Linked DNA regions of Homo sapiens: region 1 is linked to region 2. The links come from fine-mapping of genetic effects on gene expression. Tissue or cell type: whole blood. Region 2 holds a variant in brackets; the other region holds the start of a gene. All regions are shown on one strand. Distances are between the middles of the regions.

What was found.
Region 1: it holds the start of NRG1, and the variant in region 2 is fine-mapped to the expression of NRG1 in whole blood (INTERVAL, PIP above 0.99). The same link has a PIP of 0.9 or more in blood mononuclear cells and monocytes.

What each region holds. Positions count from the first base shown.
Region 1 is chr8:32,542,027-32,554,356 of GRCh38, reverse strand. It overlaps NRG1 (neuregulin 1), which reads right to left and starts at 6,046. Exons shown (of 12, transcript NM_013964.5): 1 at 5,531-6,046. The coding sequence starts at 5,630.
Region 2 is chr8:32,569,978-32,582,307 of GRCh38, reverse strand. All of the region lies in intron 1 of NRG1 (neuregulin 1), which reads right to left. Among named protein-coding and RNA genes, the nearest start is that of NRG1, 28 kb to the right of the region's middle. The variant A/C (reference allele first, on the strand shown) is at 6,842.

The sequences.
Region 1 (12,330 bases), 28 kb after region 2:
TATTGGTATTTTGGTAGCTCGCTTTTTTTTTTAACCCATTAAAACATACACAAGGACACACACAAGTGCAGACATGCACAAAATTAGGAGAAATCCAAAATATCATTAGTTCCTTCAAGAAAACTTCATTGTATGTACCTTAGTGGCATATTTTTTATCTGGGTAAAAGAAATCCGTTTTCAAGCTAATACTATCTGATTTATTTTTTTGTTTTTTCTATTTGTCAAGAGGGGGAGCTCCAGGGTTAACTAAACTACCAGAAGTTCATTCATTTGCGTCTTTGAGCAAATAAAGTGACTCACCCAAAATACTGGCATTTGGTTTGTTTTCATCTATCCTAACAGAACATGATAAACTATCAGTACTGTTCAAATCCAATTTAACTTGTTACTTGGAGAATGCTAACAGAACATTGATTTGGTAAGAATCTATCACACTTCCAGAACTTTAAACACTACCTATAGCCATTCTAGGAAGGCTGAGGAGGAAATAAAAAACTAGAAATGTGAATTTAATATATTCCTTATTTTGTTTATATTTAGAAACACCTGCACTCAATTCTATGAACATTGCTGGCAATATACTGTTATGCTTGATAAAAAGATAGTGAGGGGCAGGTTGGTGCACACTTTTGTTTTTCAATTGCTGCAATTTATACGAGTCCCAAAAGAGAAGATTATGTATTCTATACAATAAAGTGAGGTTTAAGCATCAACTCTTAAGTGTTGCCAGAAAAAAGAGTCATGTTTCAAAATCTTCTCATAGCTTGAAACCTCAACATTTTTCTGCCAGAGATAAAATTATGTTGCACCTCACTCTACTTTCAATATTTAGATTGAGTTCAGTACTGTTTTCATAATGTATATATGCAGTTATGGAATTTGACACTCTTATCCACTTTTCTCTAGTTTTACAGGTAGTACATATTAATATTTATAACCACTGTAATCTGAGGTCAGCTTTGGATATTTTTTACCATAAAAGGTAAATTTTGGAAATTATATCAAATATCTTTGCAAAGACACAGATAATTCATTTCTTAAGTAGTTTTATAAAGACAGCTAATATTACTGGGCACTTATTACATGTTGGTTGATGTTCAGAGTGCTTTTCATGGATTATTTCCTTTAAGCTTCATGAAACCCTCATGATAATAATAATAGTATTATTATCCCCATATTGCAGAAAAAGGAAATTTAGGCACAGAAAGATTAAGTAACTTTCCCATGACTACATATTTAAGGAACAGCCTAATTAGGATTTAAACCCAGGCAATCTGGCTGAAGAGCTAAGGACTAGGCCATCTGGCATCTTGCTGCCTAATAGCAAGGAATTTTCTTATTTTCGAAAGGACGGATGACAAAATACACAATATACATCTGTTTTACTGCCTGGAACATGGTAAGAATTCAATAAATAGCAGGTCCCTCATTAATAAACATAAAAGTGTCCAGCACAGTGCCTGGCATGTAGTAGGTATTCAGTGTTCATGTTTGTCTAATATTTTTTGGTTCTCTATATATATTTTTTCTCCTCTTTTTCATTAGTGTTATCTGACCATTTCATGGGTATGAGAAGTATTCATGTCTGAATATACAACTTTCTTCCGCTCTTCCTGCTATTTTAATTCTGCAAAATAAGTCCTATTTCATTCTGTGAATAATCTTTAATGTTTTTAATAATTACATAGGCTAGGTGGTTACAAGTAACCAGGTTGAAACAGATCACTGGACATTCCTCTTGTTCTGTAAACACAGGCTGCCCCGTTAGGGTCAGGGTACTTTATACGCAAGAATGTTTACAAGCACTTCAGCCTGCAGAGCCACTTAGTGAGGGAAACAGGTGGGTGATGTCATTGGGGAAACACACAGCCTGCTTCTACCTATTTGGGATACTAGGTTTCTCAATGTTTCCATCACCCAGACTCACAAATGCCCCTCCTACCAGGAGTGAAGGGAGACAGGATAGTTCTAGAATCTGGCTAGGCATGATAGTGAATTTTTCCCAGGTTATTTAAGAGGAAAAAGAAAAAAGACAGAATTCCGTGCAGAGGTGCAGAGTAAGAACAACATATCGACAGAGAATCACAAAGGAAGCTTAGAGTCAAATACCAATTGGCCAAAAATTAAAAAAAAAAAAAAAAAAAGCGGCCAAGCGCCGTGGCTCATGCCCGTAATCCCAGCACTTTGGGAGGCCGAGGCATGTGGATTGCGAGGTCAAGAGATCGACACCATCCTGGCCAACATGGTGAAACCCTGTCTCTACTAAAAATACAAAAATTAGCTGGGCATGGTGGCGCACACCTGTAGTCCCAGCTACTCAAAAGTCTGAGGCAGGGGAATCACTTGAACCCAGGAGGCAGAGGTTGCAGTGAGCCGAGATTGCACCCACTGCACTCCAGCCTGGCGACAGAGCGAGACTCCGTCAAAAAAAAAAAAAAAAAAAAGCTCTGGTTTTGTAATTCAGGCTTCAAGAGAAAAAGTCTGTTGAGCTGAATCAGTATGAAGAGGCTGGATATGGGAGGTCCAGCACCAAGGAGACCCAGGCTGTTACAGGGCTCTTGGTACGTGGATCAGTGATACAGCACCCAAGACTATTCTTAGCTTGCTTATTTTGAGCAAAGAAAAGGAATCAATGACTCCAAGGGCTTGGGACCTATTAGAGCTATTATTATGGAATAGATAATTGTGTTGAACATCTGCAGCCCCAATAGTGTGCAATTCAACATTTAGTTAATTGTATAAAAGTGCAGATGCTCTGAAATAGCCATGTATGTATCGCATATCAGTCACTCATGCCATATGAAAGTTAAAGAAGCCTTTTCCCCCTGAAAATTTCCCTCCAACAGATGTGTTTATGCCTATGCGTACAATATAGCACACAGCGGGGCTGAGTGGCTGAGATCCCACCCCATTATCTCTCCCCTGACTGTCATGAGGCAATGTTAAAACAGCTGAAGAGAGGCTTGGCTATTGCATACATATCATCAAGGACAGACAGTTGCAGTGGCTGTTTTAAGAAAGGAGTGAAACTTGGAACTGACAGGCACTAAGATGGGAGCAATACAAGAGAAACTTGTCCTCCTAAGTCCTAATTTGGGCTGGCACGGCAAGTGTGAATACTAGAGTTATGGCATCTATAGGTCGTTCCTTTGGGAATGCCTGAAACCTAGAGTGTGGGTTTTTCTCACAAACCATTATAGTCATCAGGTATGAATTCTCCTAAGACAAGGAAAACTACACTGGCACTTACCATTATAAGGAAAATGACAAAGAAGGAAAGAAACACTGATTCTGAAGCATTGTATTTAATGCCATGTGCTTCTATATAAAGCTGGTTTCAAGTTGTTGACCATTCTTTCTGAATCAAATAAAGAATACATATTCTTATCTGGTTTAAAAAGCACAAGATGCTTCGAAGGGGGTAAAAAGTCCCTCCCCAAAAAAGATTATAATCTGGTGGAAAACAGAGACAAATATACTAAAAACTAACCTACAGCCAAATTCACCCCAATTTTTCAGGGAAGACAGTTAAGCAAATGTCACTTAAAGATACTGACTTAGCTGGTTTACAGGGAATCACTGCTGTACCACTGGAAAGCAGATGAGAGCCACCAAGGAAGCTCTGGTGCTCTGTGTCAAGAGAGCGTAGCTAATCACAAGACAGCTGCCTACCTAGTAGATGAGATCTGGAGGGCACAGAAATGCCTGCCCCTCCCCCACTGAACTTGTCAAGTTGCTGTGTTACGGTACTGCTGCTGGGAGCCCTTGACAAAATGCACACCTATTACCTGAACAGGATGCTACTTCAGACCGCTGGCCCCTTCTTAATTCATTAGACCATCTACAGAGGACCACAGAAACTTCTTCTGAAGCCAATGAGCAGGGAGACAGGAGAACACAACCACAAACAGTGATAAGAGCCCCCAAAATAACTCTTTACAACGATTTGAGCTAGGTCTGAAATCTCCGTAATGTACTATGATGACCTTAGAAAGGACAGTAGACAAAGTCACGCAGGGAGGTAACTAATCCAGCTCCCCAATTTCCTATCTTGTTGAATAAAGTGCTATGGTCTCTCCCCAAAATATAGGGTAAAAATAAGGGAAAATTCAATACACCCTCATGAGGGGCAATGATCAGTAATTGAAGTGAATATGATCAGCAGGATCTTATTAAAGAAGCAAGCACAAGAATGGCCAGTGGTGAAACAATTACTCTCTGTTCAATTTCTGTTTTGCTCAAAACTCTGCTGAAGGTCTCTGCCAATAACCCAGGTTCTGAAATGCTATCAGTGATACCAGTAAGAAGACCAAGCAAATGTGGTTTGTTTTCTTCCAGCAAGGGACAAATACTTCTACAGTATTACTGTAGCCACAGTATTATCAAGTACTAGTGAATTAATTCTGCAGAAGTGCTTCATGAAATGTGTGTTGGGGGTACGCTCGAAGCGACTTAAGGCATCTGGATCAATTAATAATTGGGAATTGCAGAGGCAAAAAATAAATTCTCCCCCATCTCCTTCCTCCCCTCTTTTATCAGCTACCTACCAATCACTCATAAACAAGTATTTATTCGACATGCCTCTTTTGTCCAAGGTAATGTCCAAAGCATCAGCGCTTCCTAGGGACATCTAAGGTAAAGCTTTTGTTCATGCTCGTGTTCTGATGATGAAATACAAGATTTGTTTCTAGAAAGCTTCAATTGCCATTTTATTATATAGATAACCAGCAAACAATTGGGTTCAAAAATTCAGATAAACGGTTGTTTTCTTACATCTCTTGGGAAAGTAAATTATCCATATTTATCACAGAGGTCTTGAAAAATAGAACTGTTAAGCCAAAAGTTTGTAGAACTTGTTTGGGGCAGAGCTGATTCCTGACACTGGACTAGATTTCATCTGCTTCGCTGACCTTTAGGAATCCCTGCCGCTGCTCTTGAGTCTCCGTAGCACAGGACTGAATCAAGATGAACCGGCGCGCACTCTACATCGCTTGCCCTGTGCCCCAAAACGCCGAAGCTAACTTCCCACGCGGCCTCTTGCTCGACCACCCACTTCTGCGCTGCCAGGCACACCGAGGGGACCGGCTCTCCCTCCAGGCGGCCCATTCCAGCGTTTCCCGCTAGAGGGCACACGGCCCCCGTGCAAAGCGCTTATGGCGCGGGGCACGCGCGCACGCAGCCTCGACTCCTATAGCCCAGGTCCCACTCCCGGGCTGGGCTCAGCCGCTAAGGCGCTGGGGAGGGGCCGTGCCAGGGAGCGAAGCGCTCCCGGGACTCTGGGAGGGTGCGGCCGGGACTGCTGTCCCTTGCCCTGAGCTCTGGGCGTAGGCGCCCGGTAGGACTCGGCGCCCAGGTGAGCGGCGGCCCCCAGGAGGGGAAGCACCGCGCGACTCAACGGGCGCTCAGAGCGCAGGGCGAAGAGGACGGGCGAGGGAGAGGGGGAGGGAGAGGCCACGGCATCCGAGGAGGAGGAGGAGTAGGAGGAGCAGGAGGAGGATCGTGGGGCCCGGGCCGCGCTGCGCACCCACCTGGGCTCTGGCTGCCCGCCGCGGACTCCGGCTTCTTGCCGGAGCCTCGCTCCTTCTTCTTGCCCTTCCCTTTGCCTCTGCCTTCTTTGCGCTCGGACATCTCGCCGGAGACGGAGCGCTCTACGCGGACGGCTCTCGGCGCAGGCGAGTTTGGTCCAAGGGCTCGGATCGGGTTTGGGAAAAGTTTGTCCCTCGAGGGGGAGAGCGAGCGGCCGCGCTGAGGCGCTCGCGCTGCGCGGGGGCGTCTCCCGTTGCCTGCAGGGAGCGCGGCGCGGACGCGGCGGGCGGTCCGGCCACCTGGAACGGGCGCTCGCCCTGGCTCTCGGGGCTGCTCCTGTCGCCCCGGGAAGTCGTCGATGGGTCCCACCGCTGGCGGCTCGCGTCCTGGCCTCTGCCCGGCGCCCTCGCAACCCGATCGGGGAGAGGTTATCACCGTCCTGCTCACGCTCCCATCGTCCGGCAGCCGCCGCCGCTCAGCTCCTGGCCTCCGCGCGAGCCCGGAGTTCCAACAAGTTTCGGGGAACTCCTCGCCGGCTCTTTTTCAATTGCCCCGCAGCCACCCACCTCCCGCCCGCAGGTTGGAGGCAGGCGCCTCCTTCGCACCCTCCCCTGGCCTCGCCCCCTCCCTCTTCCCCACCACACCCCCACCCCGAGGCGCGGACACGCCACCGGGAGGAGCCTGGGCTCGGCGCTCCCGGGCGCAGCCCCTTTTCCTCCCGCGCTGGCCGGGCGGGGGGTGGCGGCGCGGCTGCCGGGAACCCCCGACAGGGGTCGCTGGACGCTGCGCGGAGACCGAGGCCAGCGCCCCGGAGACCCGGGAACCCAGGCGGAGACCCGAGGCTCTCGCTGCCCGCTCCCCTCCGCAGCCAGGCAGCGCCTGGGAGGGCTGCTCCGTCCCATTCCACGCGGAAAAGGACGGCGCAGAGAAAAGTTTGCGACTCCCACACCTGTGCCCCAAGCAGAGTCTCCGTGGTCAGGAACCCTGGGAGGGGTGCGGGGGGAACGTTGGTGGCTTTCCCAGAAGAGTTCGGGGTTCATTCCTTAACTCACTTAAGTACAAAAGCCCTGTCGCACGCAGGCGAAAATAAACTCTAGGTGGAAGGGAGTTTAAGATAAGGCTTCCTTCCAGGTGCACAGGAAGGGCTAAGCGAACCTTAAAGATGCTAGGTTGCGCTCTCCTGCTGGGTCTGCGCCGTGTGCGTGTGTGTGTGTGTGTGTGTGTGTGTGTGTGTGTGTTTAGTAAGTGCCTGTTAGAAATCTTCAGCTTTTCCTTAAAAAATAACCTGGCCTCTTCTAAGGGGGTGCCCTTAAACTACGTCTCTTACTACAACTTAATTTTCAGAGGAACTGATAAAAAACATAGTTCGGAGCACGACTCAGAATAATTAAAATTACTGCAGCCGCTGAAAGTCACTCAGTTCTGCCGAGTGGAAAAGCAGGCAGGGAGGGGTAGAATAAAGACACAGAACTGGAGATCCTTAATTCGTGAATGTGGGGTTTCTCAGATTCAAACTTTACTCAGAACTGCGCGTGAAACCTACTCCTTCCCTTGTCCTCCCTCTGGTGGAGAATTCTAAAGAGCAAGGAAATAAGAAGGCATTGACCCCTCCCCTGCAAAGGACAAAAGTTAAAGACCAGGGTAACGGGCACCACGGAAGGATCCAGAATTGTCTACATGTAGAGAAAACATTCTCAGAGTTATACCACAGCTGTGGTTAACTTAGACTCTTAATTTACAGTGAAATACTCTTGTGTTGTGGTCGGGAAGTGGTGAGTTGGAACAATCCATATTCAAAATCTATTGCTTCACTTTAAAAGTGACTTGCTCTTGGTTTTCCATTTTCTGGGGTCAATGCTAACTGAACCATTACCTACACACTACCTTCTCACGGTATTTTCTGATGGCCGCAATTTAAATAAAAGTGCAGTCTGGAGTGTCTCCTTGATATGTAGATGGGAAGGGAGGGAGGGAAATATGTTCACTTTAAAACTGTCCTAAAATCACACTAATTTTATTCTAGTTTAATTTGCACTGTCATAAGAACGAAACTCTGTTGAATGGGTTTAACTGTGGAAAGATATCCTAGCAGTCTTGCCATCATTATTTATAGTTTAAAAGTTTGATGTCCAAGTAGCTTCTGATAGCCTTCCTACAAACACCAAATATAAATTTCACTGGGCTATAAAGACAGCAAAAGCAGAGAAAAGATGATGAATATATCTCAGTAGCACTATTAATATTCCACAGAGACGTATGCAAGATGGAGTCTGAACACTGGCTGAAATAACTCTGTTTTCCCAGGAGGGGGCCACTGCTCAGTAAGCAGGAAATAGCAAAATTCAGAGAAGTCCTTTCAAAACAGATATTTTGTCCCAAGGATGTGAGACAGCATAAGGGCTTAGTATACACTACCACATATTCTCTAACATGGCATTATGTTAGAATTGAAGGACTGAAAGCAAAGATGTATTCTGGGATTCTTTTTTAAAAAATAAGATTTTCCCCAATTAAAAAAAAGAAGCTCAAAATCCATTTCTATGGAAATGTTGTAATTCTGCTACTTTTGTTTAGGGTCTGGATGTTTTGCTTCAACAAAACAGCTTACTGGTCATTTTTAGAGTAATTTTTCAGTGAGATAGGGGAAGAGCCTACGATTTTGTGATACATTTTCATTTGAATGAACCTGAAGAGGTAGTTGACAGTCTTCCAAAATTAAGCATACATGACTACAAAAGAGATTACAGATACTATGGTGGCTTTAAGATAAAACGTAAAAGCAGGATTCCTACAGGAATTTTAGGGCTGAGGAATGAATGAATATGAAGGGAGGGAGGTGAGTATAAATGAGCATTTAATAATTGTTTTTCCTTGGTTTGATGTGATGGAGGGGAAAAGACAGGACAAAAATTGCAATGATAAATATTGAAGGGACTTTAAGGAAAGATGATGAAATGGCAATTGCATGACAACAATCCTTTCTGGAACCATATCCAGATTCTCGAGTTACATTTTAGTTATCACTTGTAGCTGAATTCTCAGGAAATTCAAGGCTCAGTCCAAAAAGGTTTTTTTCTAAAAATCGTTAGGTCTTTATGTTATTTAATGTTAATTTTAAGGGGTTTTATTACATTATTTATGGCCAGCTAAAAGATTAACCAAATAAATGTCCATTTCTTGGACAGTTAAAACATTTATGAGATTTATCAAGAATTTGATATTGTCCTTAAATTATTCATCTCTGTGGTCAGGAGTAGCAAATGAATTTCTTTTGCATTTGTAAAAAACCTTGGAACTGACCAGAACAAGGGATGGAGAAAAGAGGAAGAATATTTTTGCTTTAAAAAAAAAACCCAATTGTATAATTTAGAAATGATGACATATCTTAATGGTTTAATTTTATTAATTTGTGTATTGTTCAGGTCTTAGATCATGTATTATATAGGGTATATCAGCTCCCAGGTAAATTGTCAACATAACTCCTGATAAAAAGAGTACAGATTTTAAAAAATAAACACCTTGGGCATTAAAGAAATGCAAAATTTAGATCTCACATTAAATGACAGCGTAAGAGAAACGCAATCGTGTGCCACTACATTTTTCCTTGGCTAGACTTAACTTTTAGAAGGACTCTTAGAATCTACAAAGCTGGCTGAATATATCCTCTCAGTAAATCCCATTTGGGAAATACTCCAAGAAAAGTTTTAAAACATGGAAAAATTAAAGAAGACTAACAAGACAAATTGCATTTTTGGCAAAATATTATGCATGTTGACAGTAATGGGACTTTAGAATTCTGCAAATAGTCACTTTTAACTTTTTTAAATCAAGTAACTTAAGATAATGTAAACAAAGATTACTTTTTTAAAAACTGCAACAAAGTTGACATTAATGAAGATGCATGAATGCAAAGAAAATCTCACTCAGCAGAGTCAACTTCAAAACAACCACTAAATGTATATGATTCATTCATTCACCAAGCATTTACTGAACTAAGTGATAGACAGGCCGGGCATGGTGGCTCATGCCTGTAATTCTTACACTTTCAGAGGCTGAGATGAGTGGATTGCTTGAGCCCAGGAGTTCAAGACCAGCCTGGGCAACATGAGGAAATCCTGTCTCTACAAAAAAAAAAAAAAAAAAAAAAAAGATACAAAAATTAGCCAGGTGTAGTGGTGCTCCCCTGTAGTCCCAGCTACTGGGAGGTTGAGGTGGGAGGATCACCTGAGCCCTGGGAGGTTGAGGCTGCAGTAAGCCATAAATGTGCCACTGCACTCCAGCCTGGGTGACAGTGAGACCCTGTCTCATAACAATAAATAAATAAATAAATAAATAAATAAATAAATAAATAAATAATAAGCTAGGCAGTAGAGAAACAAATAAAATACTGTCTCTGATCTCATGAACCTAAAATATTGTGAGAAAGGCATAAAAACAAATTAAATATGACAATACAATATGAAAAACAAGGCCAGATGAGTTTTCTGGAAATGAAGCTCATAAAATTTGGGGGATCTTTTAAAAGAAAAATACTGCAAAATTAAACTTACAAATTTAGGTAATAAGAAATTAAATAGGCTCTTGCAAGTCAGAGTCCCTGAAGAGTAAGCTTCCTTAGCTTATGGTAAATTCACTTTTAGTGATTCCAAGCATATTCCAACATCTGCACCATAATTACAGCAATGGTACTTGACAATTGTATACTATTTTGGAGATTAAATAATACTGTTACATAATATCACTATAAATAGGAGACATTAACAAGCAATCAAAAGGAATACACACAAAACTGAGATAAGCAAAGACCATCCTATGAGGGAGGAAATTGAGGTGAAAGGAGGCTTAATAATTCACAGATTTGCGATTGTCCTGTGTGTTCAGTTAGACTCTTAGCATCAACATGCATGTTGAGTTTATTAGGCAAAGCACTTCTGACCAGCAAGACACTCTGGCAAAACTAGAAGTGGTACCCTCCATTTGGCAAATATTTAATAGAATTACTAATTAGTCATTGTCTGCTGTAAAGACAGTTTTATGATAAAATTATGAGCTTAGAATTCAAAGAAAAATGCTAAAAGGCAATGTTCAAACAACATTAAAATCAAATCTATGTTTATGTTTTTCTGCTTGTGTGACTTTTAAAAATTACTACATACTAATGATTACTATTATTTATCATTACTATTAATAAGATTACTGTCAGGATTGTAGTGTCATGACTGATATCATGGATTAAAATTGTTAATACTGCTAAATACTATTGCTGAATTTCTTCTTCTGGCCCTGATAAACAGGGCCAACGTCATACATTTCTTCTGTAATAAGGCAGATATATAAGACAATCATTTTTGAAAACATTTGAATTTCTTATAAGAAGAATACCATCCCACACAACTTTTCAGTTATTTTTTCTGACCTCTGCATTATTTATCCTCCTCAGTCCCCTGGCAATGCACCCTTAATTTAGATGTGTATATGATGCAAATATATATATACTTATATATGCATATGTGTACATACATATATACATATGTAGACATACATGTGTATACATCTGTTTATTTGTGTGTCAATATATATGTATCTGGGTATATAATTTCTCATTCCCTTTACTGGAAATGGAAAGCATTGTCTGTATTTGAATATAAGCCTATAAAAGGCAGAGATTATATAACCTTGTATCCATTTATTTTATATTTCTATCCATTAGAATTCCTAACTGTACTTTGCATCTGGTAAGCACTAAATACTTTGGATAGAATGAACCTAAATAGAACAGAATGAAGATAAAAAGCCTAGTTCAGTGATTACCATTTTCTATCAATCAATGACTAATTACCTACTGTGACAATCATTTTGACACCTTCTTTCTGTGGCCCACCCATCCCCAAGTCCTGTCATTTTGACTTCAGTCTTCTTTTATGCCTCTTCACTAAGTACCACCCCAATCCAAGTCTTCATCCTTTTTTGTTTTGACTGTAATAAAGCTTTCCACCTGGACTATTGCTTCACCCAATTATCTTGCCACATACTGTAGTCAGAAGAGTCTTTTTGAAATGCAAATTTAATCCAGTCACTTTTTGCTTCCCAGGAGTCTATCCAGTGCCCTTGAAGAAGGAGGCTGTGGGTCACCCCAGCCTTATCTCCCTTTGCTTCCTGCACAAAGGCCTCCTTGCACCATGCCTGCATAGCTTGCATCCTTTGCAGCCTTAGAGCCTTTGCACTAGCTATATCCTCTGCCTGAATTTTCCCACAACCACCACACTTTGCCTAATTCCACTTAACATTCAGGCTTCAAGGGAAATTCAGTTGCTTGGAAAAGCTTTTCCTTACCTTTGTACACTGTTTCATCCCATCCTGTTTTAACCTCTCTTTACACTTTTTGGTGAATGAATAAATATTACTTTCATATGTAAGACTATACATACAGAAGTGTGTGTGTACTTAGGTTTATTCAGTCAAATTTTTGATGATGATGATGATGGTACTGGGCATGACACCTTGATATAACTTCTGTTAAAATAAGCCTTTCCATGAACAAATATGTAAAATAAAAATCTGGACTAATCAGTATAATCTCTCAATACCTTCTCTAAAAGGTGAGGTTATAAAATGATAAAATGCGAAGAAGCATAATTACTTTTTTTTCCTGAATTTGCTCTGCAAATTTCACCTGTAGATTACATTCATTGGCTTCATTTCCTCCCTTGGATTCTTGTGAGGTGTCAGAGGAGCCTATAAAATAGTTGGGTTTTAGCAAAGATACTCTAACAAAGTGATAATGGATGAAAACCTGCAAACA
Region 2 (12,330 bases):
TGGGCAACATGGTAAAACATCATCTTTACAAAAAATACAAAAATTACCCAGGTGTGGTGGCATGTGCCTATGGTCCCAGCTACTCCGGAGGCTGAGATGGGCAGAGCACTTGAGCCCAGGAGGTTTAGGCTTCAGTGAACTGAAACCATGCCACTGCACTCCAGTCTGGGTGACAGAGCAAGACCCTGTCTCAAAAATAAATAAAACAAAACAAAATAAAATAAAATAAAATAAAATAGAGTTCATGGTTAGATTATTTAAAGCTCCCTTCAGAGAATGCAACTTTCACCCTCAGTGACCTACCCTGGGCTCACCAGATGGCACTTCTTAGACTACCACTATTTAGCCTACTGTTTACAAAGCACTTTCATACACAATTTCCCTTTAGCACAAAAGGCTGTAAGATGGTTCAATCCAAGTAAGGTCTGCAGTTTAGCTAATAGTATTGTACCAATGTTAATTTCTTAGTTTTGATCAATATAGCAAAGCTATGTATTATTAAACGAGCTGAATAAAGGGTATAGGAGAACTCTCTGTCCTATATTTGCAATCCCTCCATAAATCAAAAATTATTTCTTCTAAAACTCAAGATGACTAAACTCAATTTATGTCTTTCGAATAAGTGTCTCTTTTGAATAATAAGTTAAGTATCCCTCTTCCATGTTTCTATAAAACCATTATTATTCCATTTAATATAAGGTATTTTATCTTTACACATGTTTGTTTCACTTAGGAGACAGAGGCTCCTGGAAGTTAGGGGCTTTATTCTTTTAATGCATCTTTTATCCTAATAACTAGCACAGTGCTCAATAATGTTGACTGAATGGAAGAACGAATGAGCAAAGTCAATCTGTGATTCAAACACTCCATATCAAGTGAGCTACTAGTTTAATGCACAGGATTTATGTAAAAACATATTGAATTTATCAGGGTTATCACTACCTTTATTACTCTATCATATTAGCCCATGATATGGTCTGTTCCTAGCCAAACACATTAGAACGCTCTATATTCTTCTTCTGGCATGCAGCTAGTATCTAGATCCTGCCTTATTCATGTAGATAACTGGCTTTATTCCCTTAGGAATTTGTCAGTACCCATTGATTCAACAAATATCATTGTGCATCAGTTACATTGCTCTCACTGTTTTAAGTACTGGACATATAGAATTGAGTATGAAAACCAAGATCCTTGTTCTCCTGGAGTTGACATTCTGGTTAGGGGGCAAGAGATAGAGACTTTATTAACCAATTAAATTTCTTTCACAAGCAATTTATTTGTAAAATAAATCCTTCCTCTTTACAATCTGAGAGCACAAAAAATTGTTAAAGTAGCTATATCCTTTCCACTTAAATTCCACATAACTCCTTTTCTATTTAAATTGAGGCTTTGAGAACTGATCACTAAATCAGTATATAACCAACTAATATTAATCAGTTGAACACTGCTCAATGGGTACTATGTCATTTAGAAAGTGTTTATTCCTAATAACAACTTATTTTCCTTACTAAAACACTTATTTATTAAAAATTACTAAGATATTATATTCTCAGTACTGCATTACACTATGTTACAATTTTACCACTTCAGAGCTACATATAAACAGTGCAATATGCTGATTAAAAGCCTGGGTCAGACAAACCCAATTTCAAGTCTTAGTCTCCCATATGCTAGTTGTTTGACCTTGGACAAATTATTTAAATTCTCTAAGCCTCATTTTACATTTTCTAAAATGTAAATGAAATAGAACCTATCTCATAGGGCTACTAAAATGATTAGATAAGATATTGCAATTAAAGCACATAGCAGTCAGTGTGTGTCACATTGCAAGCACTCAACAAATGTTGGTAGCTATTCTTCTTATATTATCACTTAGGTTCTCAGAAAATTTTAGCATTTTATGAAGCTCTCTAAATTAATACAAAGTTTTTAAATAACTGCCCACTTAGAGTTGAGACAAGTGGAAACAAATTCATTCCTGTAGCAGGCAGAATAATGGCTCCCAAAGATCCTAAATCCTGATCCCCAGAACCTGTGAATATGTTACCTTACACAGCAAAAGGGACTTCACAGATATGATTGAGACCTTGAGATTAAGGATACTAACATGGGGAAATTATGCTATATGGTCATTCCTCACTAACTGTGGGGGATTGGCTCCAGGATCCCCTGCAGATACCAAAATCCATAGATGTTCAAGTTGCTTACAGATGACCTCCTTATCAGCAGCTACAAAACTCATGCATAGGAAGGGCTGACTATATTATCCAGGTTCACCCAATCTAACGGTGTGAATCTTTAAAAGGAGATTATCTTCCCTTGGTGCAGTTAAAGAGGAATACTCAGAGATGTCATGTTGTTGGCTTGGAAGTAAGAGGAAGGGAAGCCCCTCTAGAAGCCGAAAAAGGCAAGAAAATGATTTCTCTCCTAGAGCCTCCTGCAGCCCTGCCAACACTTCAATTTTAGCCCAGTGACACTCCTCACAGAATTCTAACATTTAAAACTCTAAGATAATAAATTCATGAACTCATGTTGCTTTAAGCCTCAAAGTTTGTGGTAATTTGTTACAGGAGCAATAGAAAACTAATACAGTTCCCAAGGAGAAATCAATTGTGTTGATTTTCTAATATTAGCAACTGTGGAACTCATCTCATTAATTAATACACAGGACCTTAGTACATAAAAATAGATAAACCAGAGTGAGGTAAAAGAATTAGCTCACATGTCACTTCACCTCCATACCCTCCTATTCAAGGTTCAAGAAACAGCCCCATACCAAAGGGATCACAGAAGCTGAGGAATGGAGGTGGAAAACCATGAGGAATTCAGGAAATGAAGTTCAATCCCAGAGGCTGACCTCAACAGTTGTGACCCAGACAACCCTTCTTTCTCTCCAGCCTCAGTTTCTTGCGTGTAAAATGAAAAGTCAGATCACCTCCCAGTGCTGTTACGCTCTAAAGTGAGCCACGAAGATCTATTCTGGGTTTTTGTACATTGTGTTTCAGGAATCCACGAGCAGAGAGTTACCGACCTAATTTTTATATTTAAACATAATTTATGAATGCTTGCATCCCAGTGGCAATAGTATCCAAAAAAAAAAAAAAAAAAAAAAGACAGAAGAAAGAACTTCTACAAAATTTTCCAAAGCTTTCAAAAGTTTTGGGTTTCAGAGCCCAAACCCAAATATTGGTAGGAATGTGCTTAAATCTGACAGTTAAGGTAACAAAACAAAATAAATTATTTTTCTAGTGACTACTACTTAAGTAGCAGTATTTTTGTCTTTGCTGATAAAAATATCATCATTTAGGAATTTTAATAAACCTAAAAATTTAATAAACCTAAAAATTTAAGCAAAACCCTCACAACAAGCCTTTACAGATTAACATTACATTCAATTCTAAGTCAAGGTCTAATGAAATCCCTCACTTGGGAAGGACACACCATAGTTCTATGACATACTTCCTGTCTAAACTCTAGCTCTAAAGAAAGATATTTCTTGCATTACTTTGGTGTACCTCAAATATCTTACATATCCCAAGGGAAAACTATAGATCAGGTCCAAAAGTCTGCAGCAAATCTATTGAACAATTATCTATTTGCAATGGGGGAAATCATCCTGAAATAAGTTAAAAGCTATAGAGACATCACAATTAAGAACCTAGGTCAAACCAACCTTATGGTCATGAAGGCCATTCCTGAACAATTGTATTGTCAGCACTGTGGTGAAAAAAAAATCTATCAGCAATGCAGTGGACCTCTGTGATTTAACCATCAGACAGTACCTCTGAGAATTCAAACCCTTAAGAATTTTATCATGTTAGTGACAAAAAAAAAAAAGGAGGACAGAGAATGTCTGCAGTGGTTCTGCCAGCGTGTGTTAATGTAGTAAGTCAGACCTCAATAGACATATGATATCAGCACATGAACAATTTGAAGCAATAAAGGACTGGCTTTTTGTGATTAAAGAGACAACCTTAGTATTATAACACATGAAGATCTTATTTAAAAAGATCTGGCCGGGCACGGTGGCTCATGCCTGTGATCTCAGCACTTTGGAAGGCTGAGGCGGGTGGATCACGAGGTCAGGCATTCCAGACCAGCCTGGCCAACATACTGAAATCTTGTCTCTACTAAAAATACAAAAAATTATCCGGGCGTGGTGGCAGGTGCCTGTAATCCCAGCTACTCAGGAGGCTGAGGCTAGAGAATCGCTTGAACCTGGGAGGGAGAGGTTGCCGTGAGCTCAGATGGAGCCACTGCACTCCAGACCAGGCGACTGTGTGAGACTCCATCTCAAAAACAAACAAACAAGCAAACAAAAACCTCCATGAGCTAATAGGCCCATAGACCTGCCTTCCTTACTGCAAGTGGTGGCTGGTTTTCTTGCTTCCAGAACCACTTCATCTTCCTTTTATGTTAAACTATCTGGAAAAGCTGATGGCACAGATGAAGTTACAAAGACAGCTCCTCATTTTTGTAAGAAGTGCTATAATGATGGTACATAACAGTTTAAAAAAAAGAGAGAGATGGATAAAGAAGTTAATACTGATTTCTGCTAGAAGAAAATGTCCTCAAGAACCAAGGTCTCGAAAAACAAAAAAAAAAAGTGTTAAGGTTTAAGGGTACAACGATTTAACTAAGTTGTTGAGAATAAATGTTGTTAGAGCCATAACTATGCTAGTTTTTTATTAGGTTCATTGTTATTCTTGTTGGTGTTCAGTTTATAGTTTCGTAAGTTTTGAATTCTCTTCACCTAGCCCTACTTTTTCCAGAAGCCTCTTTATTTTGTGTGTCATTTTGCAAAATGAGTTTTGTTTTGTCTTGCTTTGTTTTTCCCAAAAAATGCAAGCATGGAGTTACAGCAGAAATGTCTGTGGCAGGACAGGGACCTGTCAGTGGTGTTGCAGACAACTTCCCCAGGCCAGAGGTTCCCAAACCTATAACTGTATACATAAGTCACTTGAGCAAGTTTACTAAAATGAATATGAAATATTCATGGAACCCATTGAAAGACTCTGATTCAGTAATTCAGAGAAAAGCCTAACAATATGCTCTTTTACATGGAATCAACCTAGGTGCCCATCAGTGGTGGACTGCATTGAGGAAATGTAGTATATACACACTGTGGAATATCATGTAGCCATAAAAAGGAATGAAACTGCATCCTGTGTAGCAACAGGGATGCAGCTGGAGGCCATTATCCTAAGCGAATTAATGCAGGAACAGAAAACCAAATACTCCATGCTCTCACTTATAAGTAGGAGCTAAACATCAAATACTCATAGACATAAAGATGGCAAAAACAGACACTGGGGACTACTAGAGCAGGGAGGGAAGGAGGGAACAGGAGTTGAAAAACCAACTATTGGGTACTATGCTCAGTATCTGGGTGATGGGATCATTCGTACCCTAAACCTCAGCACCACGCAATATCACTCATATGACAAACTTGCATACGTAGGTTGAATATAAAATATAAGTTGAAATTATTTTTTAAAATAATATAAATATAAATATAAAATATAAGTCGAAATTATTTTTTTAAAAAGAGAAAAATATAGGGAAAAAAGAATCTGCCTTTTAAACAAAAGCATCGCAGGCGATTCTCATACAGGTGGTTAGTATGGGCACAACTTTCTCATAAATATTACACTGTGCCAGGGGCAGCCCTCTCCAAAAGTTATATGGCATTTACAGAGTTAATGTCCACCCCATAAAGTCTTTCCAGTAAAAATGTTTTGTTTTGTTTTTTTAAGAAAAAATGTTTAAGATTTATTGCCCTGGGTAAATTATAGGGAATTGAGACTTAATTTCACTTCTGAAAAAATTCAGAATCTTGTAGAAAGAGACAAATGAAAATTATGGTTCAATTGGCATTGGGATAGTTATCTACAAGGCTCAAATTGTTAGCACTCATATTCAAAATAATAGCCAGGAGTCAATACAGGGTTTAAAAATTATTTTTTAAAAAACAAAAAAAGAAGAGAAAATGAGGGAAAGAGAATCAAATATTCCAAAAAGTTTCTCCTGAGCTAGACACCTCCTTCCATTTTTATGTGTCATGTGAGATGGACTATTCTCTAAGGGCTGAAAGTAATTTCATAATATTTAAACAACTGATTTAAAATAATTACATTATTTGAAAATTGCTAAGAGAGTAGATTTTAAATGTCCTCACCACAAACAAATGGTATGTGAGATGATGACACGTATGCTAAATAGCTTGCTTTAGCCATTCCACAGTGTATGCATATTTCAAAACATCACGTTGTATACCATAAATACATACAATTTTGTCAATTTAAAAATTAATTAAAAATAAATTTTAAAAAATAAAACACATATTAATCAGGAACACATTTATTTTGGAGAATTCCTATGAAGGTTGCTTGAAGATACTTTTTTCCTAAACTTTAGAGCTATGTAAGACAAAGAACCCATTTTAAATTTGTGCTTTCTATAAGACTAGCATATCTGGGTCCTCAGATTTAAATGACCAGATCTAAAAAATAACAGTTAAGAATTATAAAAGGTGTAAGAACTGCCATTCCCAGACCAAGTTTCACCCTTATTAGAACATTCAAGCCTTACATTGGTGTCACCATTTAATCTTTACAAGAATACTCTCTCAAAATTTCCTACTTTATACTTATTTTCTAGGTAACCATGAGCATTAAATGCCCACAGGGATATTATTATCTCCAGTGTAGATCTCTACTTTAAGATCCAGACTTTGTTAATGTTGCTTGTCTTAAAAAGTATAAATATCCATGCAGTTGAGCAGTCCTAAAATACAACTTTTCCTTTACTCATGCCCTATCTCCAGCCCACTACAAAGTTT[A/C]GTTAATTTTACTACCACCCACCCCCACTTTCCCATCCCCAACCCTTCCAGGAAGGGAACTTTTATAGTATTAGGCAATAAGCAGAGCCGATGAACTAGTAATTAGTCAACTATAAAGCAACCACAAAAGTAGGAAAGAAGAGAAAGAAGAAGTAGGCCAACCACAAGGCAATTGAACATGAAGTGAGCTAAAACATGCATCCTAGAAAAAGAGGAAGTAGCCAAGAATGACATATCATGAAGAATGGCAATGCCTATCATGAATGTCTATGCCAGAGGGGTATGTCCAACCAGTATGGACACTAAGACAAAGGTCAATTGTGAAACCTGGGGAAAAATCTGAAGCTGGAGTTAGAAGAAGAGGTATTCCTAGGGAGCAAGGAATGGGATTTATGATCTGCTGTTCAGCTTTATTCTATGTTTGGCTTTAGATTTGTCTAGGGTTTACTTCTGTTCCTGAGTCATCTGGAGTTCCCTGAAAGCAGAGAACTCCATGCTTTCAAGGTTGAAGCATAACTGATTCTCTCACAATCTGGCATTCTGAACAGGATTGAAGGTTCAGAAATTCTATGTACTAACATAGGAGAGTTAGGTGGCAAAGCTGTAGTGTAAACTCTATGAAACAAAGATTACACATTGTGTTAGGCCATTCTTGCATTGCTGTAAAAAATAACTGAGACTGGGTAATTTATCAAGAAAAGAGGTTTAACTGGCCCACAGTTCTACAGGCTTTACAAGAAGCCTGATGCTGGCATCTGCCAGGCTTCTGGTGAAGCCTCAGGGAGCTTTCAATCATGACGGAAGGCAAAGGAGTAGTGGGGGACATCACATGGTGAAAGCAGGAGCGAGCAAGCAAGAGAAAGAGAGAGAGACCACACACTTTAAAATGACCAGATCTTAGTCATTATCATGAGGACAGCACCAAGGAATGGTGCTAAACCATTCATGAGAAATCCACCCCCATGATCCAGTCACCTCCTACCAGACCCCACCCCCAATATTGGAGATTACAATTCAACATGAGATTTGGGTGGGGAAAAATATACAAACTATACCACACAGTGATCTGATCAAGCACTGAATTTGAGATTTCTTAGAATTATATATTTGGGTAAGTTTATTAAAAGCCTTTTGAAGACCTGATGAAATGAGAGAGGGAAATGAGGCCTGGAGAATGTAAAATTAGAGACATAATTACGGAATGTCTCACCCACTTGGAATTTGAATAATTGCATCTACCCAACCAGATTAGTAATGTATAAAATCTTCTATCCTGTTTAAATTTGAGAGGTTACAGCATTATGCTCCTAAGATCTTTAAAAGGTCATGCTGCTATAAAGACACACGCACATGTATGTTTATTGCAGCACTATTCACAATAGCAAAGACTTGGCACCAACCCAAATGTCCAACAATGATAGACTGGATTAAGAAAATGTGGCACATACACACCATGGAATACTATGCAGCCATAAAAAATGATGAGTTCATGTCCTTTGTAGGGACATGGATGAAGCTGGAAATCATCATTCTCAGCAAACTATCGCAAGGACAAAAAACCAAACACTGCATGTTCTCACTCATAGGTGGGAATTGAACAATGAGAACACATGGGCACAGGAAGGGGAATTTCACATACCGGGGACTGTTGTGGGGTGGGAGGAGCGGGGAGGGATAGCATTAGGAGATATACCTAATGCTAAATGACGAGTTAATGGGTGCAGCACACCAACACGGCACATGTATACATATGTAACAAACCTGCACATTGTGCACATGTACCCTAAAACTTAAAGTATAATAATAATAAAATAAAAAATAAAAATAAAAAGGCCTTTGATAAACTTACCCAAATACATAGTTCTAAGAAATCCTAACTCAGATTCCTAATGAAAAGACAGAACTGGCTGGAGAACATAAGCAACGCCAGGTAAAGAAAAATTGAATATTGCTACAGCAAATGGTAAGGATATATATTTTATGTCAGGATATTGGGATAATAGTATCTCTTCAAGGAATATTATAGAGCAGAGGTCAGCAAAATACGGCTCATAAGCCAAATCCTGCCTACCATCTGTTTTTGTAAATAAAGTTTTATTGGAGCACACTTGCATTCATTTGCTCATAAATTGTCTGTGGCTACTTTTGTGCTACAACTGCAGAGTTGGGTCTCTACAGAAATGTTTGCAGATCCCTGTTATCGAGTCAATAAGTCATCATGGAACATCTGTAGAATTTCATCTAGCAATAAGTATTGGCAGGTTTCATAAAGACAGACAGCAGAATGGGAATAATCCATGCAGGGTCTGCATTTTGAGGTCTATGAACAAACTGGATATACAGAGTAGAATATTCAGAATGTTATCTGAGAATGCTAAGGGAACTAGAACCCCATTCAGATAAGGAGAAGAAGCTAAGATATACTTACGATAAATGTTGCCATTACTCGGTTCAGGCAAAACATTGTTTGCAAGTGGGGATAGGATATACAGATTAGGAAAAATGGTGGCGAAATTAACCTCAAAGTCAGAAAATAAATATGTCGCAAATTTGTAGATTAATATATTATTTGATATTTATTTATTTGGTGTGTATAATTTTATTTGATGATGATTTCCTTCTTTGAAAAAATGAGATGACAGATTCACCCAAACTGTGACTTTGTAGAAACCCTTGGGTGAGGACAGTTATCAGACAGAGGAAATGAGGCCTGTAGAATGTAAAATTAGAGACATAATTATGGAATGTCTCAACCACTTGGAATCTGAATAATTGCATCTACCCAACAGAGGAAAATGCCTCTGTTGCTGTATTAGTAACATAAAATATTCTATCCTGTTTAAATTTGAGAGGTTATGGCATTATGGTCTTTATAACTATCAATGATTTTTAGCTACTGTATAATAAAGAAAGCTGAAATAAGATGTAATTGAAAGTTAGGATAGTACATTGCAGTTAAGACGACACTATGCTAGGATTAGAACTGTGACGGGATTATTATTCTTAGAGGAATGAAGTTTTGGCTTAATAAATCAAATGTGTATAGTAACAATAGAAGAAATTTTAAATGATATCTTAGAAAATTAATCCTGTACCTCACTTATGATATATTGATAACATTCTGTGCAATTTATTCCTATGAGGGCTCTAAGATCATTCACATTGCTTATAAAATTGTGCTGAGTTTTTCTGTGGGAATTAGCAGAAAGAAGCTAAGTATATAAATTTCAAAAATTAAGACATGGAGGAAAATAGATTTTGGAAAGACTTCAGGAGTGTGCCACTTATGTCGTAAGCATTTCTAAAATGTGTTGCAATTGTTTCTTTGAAAACAGGAAATGAGAATAATAAAAGTGGATGAGAAAAAAACACTTGTGGTAAAAAGTCAGAAGACAGGCAGATTTTAAAATGTGGGCAACTTAGGAATATAGAGAAGATAGGACATAAAAGTGAACATAAAAGGACAAAAAGCTAGCAATAAACTGTGTATAAAAATTACATGGGGTTTGGAATCAGTTTACGGATTGAGTTCCAGCTCAGTCTCTGACTATTTTTATGGCCATGTGTGTATATTTGTAACTTAAAATGAGCATATATGGTCACTGCCTGTATGTAATTATTTACTGAGTTGTCTTACCATGGGAATTTTTCTACCTATTCCTTTTGAGTAACTTTGAAAATTCTGCTTCTGTTGTACCTTAATTGCAAGTCACTCAATTTACTCCTATTGGTAGTAACAAGAAAAAGATGAAACAGAGTTTTGAAATAGACATGAAGCAAAAGTAATGGCAAGAGGAATGGAGGTGTTTGCAAATAAAGCTTGAAGAAAGATGTGAGTAAAAGGAAACCTAGGCCTTGAAAAAAACAAAACAAAACAAAAAACTAGCTTCTGCTGGCTGATACGAAGGCAAAAGAATCTAAAATTCGTACATGAAGGCTGAGCTGGGGAGGTGGGAAGAGACAGGACCCAAGCAGGAAGAAGACACAAGTCAAAATCCTGAAGCTAAAACCTGAACGTCAACACCTCCTCATGGGTGCTGTAAAACCACGATGGCATTGACTATTTGACTATAGGCCCAGACCTTTGATAAGAAAATGCTGTTGAAAATCTCCTTGTATGCACATTATTTATAAAAGAACAAGTGAATTTACAAGCATCCCAAGCTGCAAAGGAACTAAGATCCTAAAACATTTCTGGTGAGTAAGGAATGCTAAGCAGAAATTAGTAATAGGGCCCGGCATCCATTATTACTAGTTTCAAATGTAGATGTCATGTCATTGCTGTATCTTTAATTTGGAGCACTGTCTTTATTGTTTTATGTTACTGGCTATAAAAATATTTATGAAGACTATAACAAGTTCACTCCTAACTTCAATCCTCTTAACCCACCTTTCCCACCATAGGCTTTTCTAGGACCTAACCAGGCGCAGTTCATGTGGACATCTATATACATGTTGCCCATATATTCACACATAAACTATGCTCTTCTTTCATACATAATATGGAATAAGGAAGGCACTTTTTAGAAATTTGGCTCAGATTAACTTTCTGGGCATGACAAACTCAGTGCAAATTCATATCATTCACCTACACTCCTGTCTGTTACCAATACCCTATAATCATAATTCATATTAACATAATTATCTTAGTATTGATTACCTAAAATATCCATAATCATCAATAATTTGTATCAATACAAAATAATGTATGTGACACTTTATCTTAAAGAAAGGGTCCTTTCAAAACAAGAGTTGATAACAAGGACTTTCAGAAATTAGGACTTTCTGAAGCTGGGAAATACACTGAATGTATGTATTTACATACATTTGAAAATATTCTGATTTTTATTCATCTTAACAAGCTTAATGATAGAGTGGAGCAAACCACTTATTTAGAAATACCATTTAAATTTTTTCTGATGAACTTGATGAAGTTCAAGTAGTGGACAACACCAAAAAAAATATTTAAAAGCAGGCCCTTTCTTTTCTGAAGTTTTTATATATAAGTCAGAGTTTTATTTAAAAGTACTTCCTAGCATCTTTAGAATATAAGCTCTCCATGGATAAGAATCATGTCTGTTCTATTCTCTGTTTATTTCCAGAACCTAGCACAATGTACAGAATGTATTAGGTACTTAATAATTATGTGTTGAATAAATGAATGCACAAGCTTCCTATAAGACCTAAAATAAAAGGTTTTTAAAAAAGAAACAGCAGAACATGCATGTTATATAGAAAATATAAAGATAAATATCAGAGGCCAGGAGCAGTGGCTCACGCCTGTAATCCCAGCACTTTGGGAGGCCAAGGTGGGCGGATCACCTGAGGTCAGGAGTCCGAGACCAGCCTGGCCAACATGGTAAAAATCCCGTCTCTACTAAAAATACAAAAATTAGCCAGGCGTGATGGTGTGTGCCTGTAATCCCAGCTACTCAGGAGGCTGAGGCAGGAGAACTGGTTGAACCCAGGAGGCAGAGGTTGCAGTGAGC